Linked DNA regions of Homo sapiens. The protein of the gene in region 1 purifies or fractionates together with the protein of each later gene. This does not show direct contact. Each region holds a gene or a part of one and is shown in the gene's direction. Other genes may lie near its edges.

Region 1 (3,500 bases):
TGATGAGCTGGGAGAGTGGGAGAAGCATCACCCCCTCCCTGCCGCAGTCACTGGGAGAACATCTCCCTGGCAAGGTGCTGAGCAAAGCCCCTCCTACACCAGGCTGGGCTCCCTCCGCCCTGATCGGGTTCTGTGCGTGCCCTCCATGGTTTCCAAGGCCCTTGTTGGATGCAGTCTCCTTCCATCCTCAGCAGAGCCTTGTGAATAAATTGTGATCTGAGTTACCACTCCCACTGACAGATGGAAAAGCAGGCCCACAGAACCTGTGATTTTTTTTGGTGGCTGGAAAAACAGGAGTTAGGGCTGCACTTTTTGAATTCCAAGTTGATGACCCTTTTTGCAATTCCTTATTGCTGTCCGAGGAAAAAGAGTTGCCAGTGACCTGCTGAGAGTCATGAATGACAATAATGGCCAGGATTGAGTGTTCCTCTGTGCTCAGTACTGTACAAAGGGGATTTGTTAACCTGGAAAAAAAACAATCAATGGAGTTTTATTACTTGACATAATTAAGGAGGATGCTGGAAGTATTCTCCAAAGCAGCGTCTCTCCCAGGAGGGTTTCATGGGGTGATGGAGAGGGGAAAGGGTGTGTCATTGCATGTGGAGGAGGGGTCCCAGTGGCACAGATGCAGTGAGTCATCACGCCAGCACATAGTCACATGTTCTGGTGATGAAGCTGTAGCTCCTCCCGGGTGGAGACTGTAGCATGGTAATGAGGAAAGTCCACTTGGGATCATCTCTATAAGTTGCTGGTTTCACCTGACTTGGTGACTGCATTCCATGCAAGTTGTGGGAAAAACCAGGCTGAAGGGCAGGAGCCTGTGAAACAGGCTGATTGTTCAAGCTGATGAAACTCCTATAGTCCTTGGAGACCCTCCCTGTCTGCTACACTTGTACATGGTATTTTATTTGATTGTTGTATTATCCTTAGGATTTGGGATTGTCATTCCCATTTCACGAAATGGGAAACTGAGGATTCCAAGGTTTAGTAGCCTCTCCCAGTGTCAGTCACTAGCAAGCAGCAGAGCCTGGACACGAAGCCAGGTAGTCGGGTTCCAGGGCACATTACTTCTATTGATTTGATGGGAAACCTTCATTGAGTGCCTGTCCTGTGCTAAGGGTATGCTCACAATTAAGTACTCTATTCCTGTGTGTCGTTATGAGCCCCTCTGGATCACACCTGAGTTTATACTGATAAGGTGATTAGTAGGTTGGGGCCCCTAGACAGCCTCAGGATGGAGCTACTTCTTAGAATGACCAAGCAATTAGGAGGTTAGAACTTTCAGCTCCACCTACCGACCTCCTGGAAGGAAGCAGGGGCTGGAGATTAAGCTCTATAAAAACTTACAGATGTGATAAGCATCTGGGTTGAACACATGGAGGGCACTGGGAGGGTGGCGTGGCTGGAGCAGGCGTGGAAGTTCCATGCCCACCCCCTCTCCTACCCTGCCTCTGTGTCATTCCACCTGGCTGTTCCTGAGTTGTATCCTTTATAATAAACCAGTAACTATAAAAAAAGCGTTTGCCTGAGTTCTTCGAGCCATTCTAGCAAATTATTGCACCTGAAGAGGGGGTTGTGCAAACCCCTGATTAAGCTTGTTGGTCAGAAGTCTAAGTGGCCCAGGACTTGTGACTGCCATCTGAAGTAGGGTAGGTCTTGTGAGACTGAGCCCTTAAATCAGACGGGAGTACAGTGACGTGATCATAGCTAATTGCAGCCTTGACCTCCCCCAGGCTCAAGTGAACCTCCCACCTCAGCCTCCCGAGTAGCCGGGACCACAGGCATGTACCAGCAGGCATGGCTAATTTTTGTAGAGATGGGGTCCCACTACGTTGCCCAGGATGGTCTTGGAACTCTTGGGCTCAAGGGATTCTCCTGCCTCAGCCTCCCAAAGTGCTGGGATTAAAGGCACGAGGCACCACACCTAGCTGGGAGTTCTAATTGAATTGTCAGACACCCAGTTGGTGTCTGGAGACTTAGAGAATTGACTGTGTTAGAAAACACCTCAAACCCATTTTACAGATGCAGCAACTGAGGATTAGAGAGGTTTTGGGAACTTTCCCAGAATTTATTTAGTGGTAAGTGGAGGAACTGGGATTTGAATGTGTGTAATTTGACTTTAAGTCCTATACTCCAAGTGACTGCTTGATTTTGCTGTCCCATTGAGTACCTCTGTGTGCCAGGTGCTCACAAGCATTTAGTGATCAAAAGGTTCAGAACCCATTTCTTGCCTGGGCTTTAACCTCTCCATCAGCTTTGGCACAAGTCTGTGTGTGAGCCTGGCATGTACTCAACCTGTCTTGAGTCTTGGTTTCCTAAGAATAAAAATAAGATCAACCTTCTGGCTTTTGTAATAAATGTTAAGTGTTAGATGAATAGTAAGTACACCTGAAATGTCATGTCTCCTCCACTTTTCTCTCCATAAATGTTCATTTATCTTTTCTTCCTGGCCTCTTCTGGACCCTGGAATGCTGCAGCTTGGATGCACCGGTGGCCTGTGTGAAGCCTGTGTGTTCTTGGAAACTGGCCAGAGGCCATAATTCCCAACCCACGTGTTCCCATCCCCTCTTTCTCGTGGCTCTCTGCCATTTTTTGATGGGGGTTGGTGAGGGCGTCTGACCTGAAGGAGGAGGCCAGATGCAGCTATTTATAAAGTTTTTAGGGAATAGAGATCTCAAGAGAAGATTGCATGTCCTTGCTGTCCCCCTGGCCGCCAGTGGTCACTGAGCCATCTTCTCCCCATTTCCCAGGTATGATCGGGTACGGCATGGCCAAGGGTGCTGTTCACCAGCTCTGCCAGAGCCTGGCTGGGAAGAACAGCGGCATGCCGCCCGGGGCAGCCGCCATCGCTGTGCTCCCGTAAGTGCTTGGGGTTCCCTGGCTGCTGCCCACCTCTGCCCCACTGCTGCAGGTGACCGTTTGTCTGACTGTAGCTTTCCACAGGCGACCTGGGTGTGCTCTCACCTCTGGTTCTGAAACACACCAAAGTCTCTTAAGATACTTATTATCTTAATCTGTTTGAATTGCTCTAACAAAATACCTTAGACTGGGTGATTTATAAACAGCAGAAATGTATTGCTCACAGTTCTGGAGGCTGGGAAGTCCAAGATGAAGGCACCAGCAGATTTGGTGCCTGGCGAGGGCTCATTCCTCATAGATGGCGCCTTCTATATGTGCTCACACGGTGGAAGGGGCAAATGGGCTCCCTCCAGCTTCCTTTATAAGCATGCTAATCCCCTCCTAAAGGCCCCCACTTGTCTCCTGCAGACCCCACCTCTTAATACTATTATGTTGCAGTTTGTGTTTTGTATGTGAGTTTGAGGGGGATACATTCAGACCATAGCAATACTTCCAGTTTTGGGTTCTCCTGGGCTGTCCAGAATGTTTGATTGGCTGGTTGGATGGGTCTGTCTTTTTTGCCTCTTTTTTTCCTCTCCCTTTCTTTTCTCCCTTCATTTCTTCCTTTAAAATTAGACTACACATTTTACTTTTTTATATGT
Region 2 (3,500 bases), on another chromosome or scaffold:
TCAAGCAATTCTCCTGCCTCAGCTACCCAAGTAGCTGGGATTGCAGGTGCCTGACACCATGCCCGGCTAGTTTTTATATATTTTTATAGTAGAGATGGGGTTTTGCCATGTTGGCCAGTTTGGTCTCAAATTCCGGACCTCAGGTGATCCACCTGCCTCAGCCTCCCAAAGTGCTGGGATTACAGGTGTGAGCTGCCATGCCCAGCCCTTAATTGCTTATTCTTTATCTTAGTTTTCAATATTTAGAAAGCTATCCCATTTTACATGAGGAAACTGAGGTTTTGGGTCAGCAACCATGAGGTAGACCTAGGATTTGAACTAAGGACCCTGACTGTAGATTCCCTGCTCTTAACCATAACATATATAAATTTCTTGTGTTTTACTCATTTGCATAGCCCTCAGATAGTGAGTGCACAATAACTTGTAATAGATTTGTATTTTGGCCTTTGGAAGTCAAGGTCTCATCTTCTAACCTGGTATTTTTTTTCTCCCTCTAGGTTACGGGTAAATTCCGGGGAGGTGTGAACCCCTTCACCAATGGCTGCTGTAACAATGTCAGCCGTGTTCTCTGCAGTTCTCCAGCACCCAGGTACACCTATCCCTCTGGTCTAGTGTTTACCATTGGTCAGAACTTTTATCTTCTTTGGGCTTGTTCTGGTAAAGGAGGGGTCTGGTGAGAGCCTTTAGGAAGGGTTCTCTATCTTAGAATGTTAAGTACCCACTCTATCTTAGAATGGTAAGTAGTCTATCTTAGAATGGTAAGTACCTACATGCCCATCCTTTAGTGCAGTGGTCCCTAACCTTTTTGGCAGCAGGGACCGGTTTCATGGGAGACACTTTTTCCACAGATGGGGGCTGGGGTGGGGTGGTTTCAGGATGAAACTGTTCCACCTCAGATCATGAGGCATTAGATTCTCATGGCTGGGTGTGGCGGCTCACACCCAGCACTTTGGGAGGCCGAGGTGGGCGAATCACTTGAGGTCAGAAGTTCAAGTCCAGCCTGGCCAATATGGTGAAACCCCTTCTCTACTCAAAATACAAAAATTAGCTGGGCAAGGTGGCAGGCACCTGTAATCCCAGCTACTTGGGAGGCTGAGGCAGGATAATTGCCTGAACCCAGGAGGCAGAGGTTGCAGTGAGCTCAGAGCACACATACAACCTAGATTGCTTGCATGTGTAGTTTACAACAGGGTTCTAGGGTTTGCGCTCCTAAGAGAATCTAATGCCTCCGCTGATCTGACAGGAGATGGAGCTCAGGTGATAATGCTCACTGGCCCACTGCTTACCTCCTGCTATGTGGCCCAGTTCCTAACAGGCCATGAACCGGTACTGGTCTGCGGCCCAGGGGTTGGGGACCCCTGCTTTAGTGGACACTGTGAATTCCATTGATATTCTTCAGGTATTAAGGTAAATCTTTGAGAATTGAGGGTGAATAAGATACACTCTAAAGTGCTTTCCTTGAGCTAGGTATCTGCTCACAAAGGCCTAGTCCTGCTGCAGTCCTTCACAGAATCAATTCTGTTTATTGCTAAGTAAGTGATGGCCAAAACTGCAATTACTTTTTTACCAACCTAATAAAAATGGTTTACAGAAACAGTAGATACTTTAAAATATAAATGAATGAAAGCTCTCTCGCTGTGTCTCTCTCTCTCTCTCTCTCGACACTTAGGTATTTGGGGAGACCAAAGAAAGAGAAGACAATTGTAATCAGACCTCCCTTCCTTCGACCAGAAGTTTCAGATGGGCAGATAACTGTGAAGATCATGGATAATGGCATCCAGGGAGAGCTGAGGAGAACAAAGGTGAGGAATTTAGAGAAGTCAAGCTAGATAACATGGAAGTCTCACCCAAGGCAAAGAGACGGAAGCTTGCTTTAGTTTCCTTTGTGTTTTTTTTTTTTTTTTTGAGACAGAGTCTTGCTCTGTTGCCCAGGCTGGAGTGCAGTGGTGCTCAGTGCAAACTCTGCCTCCCAGGTTCAAGCAATTCTCCTGCCTCAGCCTCCCGAGTAGCTGGGATTACAGGTGTCCGTCACCTTGCCTGGCTAATTTTTGTATTTTTAGTAGAGATGGGGTTTTGCCATGTTGGCCAGGCTGGTCTCGAACTTCTGACCTCAGGTGATCTGCCCACCTCGGCCTCCCAAAGTGCTAGGATTACAAGCATGAGCCACCACGCCTGGCCCATATTTCTTACAGTGTTTATCACTTACTAATTTGGGTTAAAATTACTTAAATACAAATCTTGTTTTCTACATTAGATTTTTTTTTTTGAGAGGGAGTCTTGCTCTGTTACCTAGGCTGGACTCCAGTGGTATGATCTCAGCTCACTGCAACCTCTGCCTCCCAGGTTCAAGCGATTCTCGTGCCTCAGCCACCTGGGTAGCTGGGACTACAGGCATGCGCCACCACGCCTGGCTAATTTTTTTATTTTCAGTAGAGGCAGGGTTTTCCTATGTTGGCTAGGCTGGTCTCAAACTCCTGACCTGAAGTGATCCAACCCCCTCAGCCTCCCAAAATGCTAGGATTATAGGTGTGAGCCACTGCACCCGGCCCTACATTAGACTTTAAGTTCATTAACAATAGAAAATGAATTCATTCATTTCCATGTCTTCATAGGACTTAACAGCTTACAGCTAGATGGTAGGAGCTAAACAAGTAGTTGTTGGTTTAAATGGGCAAATAAGTGACAGAATTAAAACCTTTTTTAAACCCTTTCTTCTGCCAGGTACAGTAACTCATGCCTATAATCCCAGCACTTAGCGAGGCTGAGGTGGGAAGATCGCTTGAGTTCAGGAGCTCAAGACCAGCCTGGACAACATAGCGAGACTCCATCTCTAAAACAGACTAAAATAAAAAATAGAAAAATTTTCTGGCTGGGCGTAGTGGCTTATGCCTGTAATCCCAACACTTTGGGAGGCTGAGGTGGGTGGATCACCTGAGGTTGGGAGCTCGAGACCAGCCTGACCAACATGGAGACACCCTGTCTCTATTAAAAATACAAAATTAGCTGGGCATGGTGGCGCATGCCTGTAGTCCTAGCTACTTGGGAGGCTGAGGTAGGAGAATTGCTTGAACCCGGGAGGCGGAGGTTGCAGTGAGCCGAGATCATGCCATTGCACTCCGCCTGGGCAACAAGACCGAAACTCCATCTCAAAAAAAAATTAGCCAGGTGTGGTGGCACATGCCTGTAATCCTAGCTGCTTGGGAGGCTGAGGCATGAGAATCGCTTGAACCTGCGAGCCAGAGGTTGCAATGAGCCGTGATCACGCCACTGCACTCCAGCCTGGGTGACTGAGCAAGACTCCATTTCAAAAAAAAAAACCCAACTTTTCTTCATCTAATGCTATACCCAAACTGATTCTTGTGCCTTGTCTTCCAGTATAGTTGAGAAATATATGATAGGCAGTGGCTCATGTCTATAATCCCAACATTTAGGGTGGCCAAGGTGGGGTGATATTGCTTGAGGCCAGGGGTTCAAGACCAGCTTGGGCAACATGGCGAGAC

What was found. The genes of interacting proteins can lie anywhere in the genome.
Region 2: the proteins of QDPR (region 1) and ZDHHC5 purify together in Homo sapiens (co-immunoprecipitation; one large-scale study listed by IntAct). This does not show direct contact.

The regions. Positions count from the first base shown.
Region 1 is NC_000004.12:17,491,591-17,495,090, reverse strand, and holds part of QDPR (dihydropteridine reductase), read left to right. Parts: intron 1-2,750; coding exon 2,751-2,859; intron 2,860-3,500. UniProt on the Homo sapiens protein: Catalyzes the conversion of quinonoid dihydrobiopterin into tetrahydrobiopterin.
Region 2 is NC_000011.10:57,692,114-57,695,613, forward strand, and holds part of ZDHHC5 (palmitoyltransferase ZDHHC5), read left to right. Parts: intron 1-497; coding exon 498-589; intron 590-1,669; coding exon 1,670-1,802; intron 1,803-3,500. UniProt on the Homo sapiens protein: Palmitoyltransferase that catalyzes the addition of palmitate onto various protein substrates such as CTNND2, CD36, GSDMD, NLRP3, NOD1, NOD2, STAT3 and S1PR1 thus plays a role in various biological processes including cell adhesion, inflammation, fatty acid uptake, bacterial sensing or cardiac functions.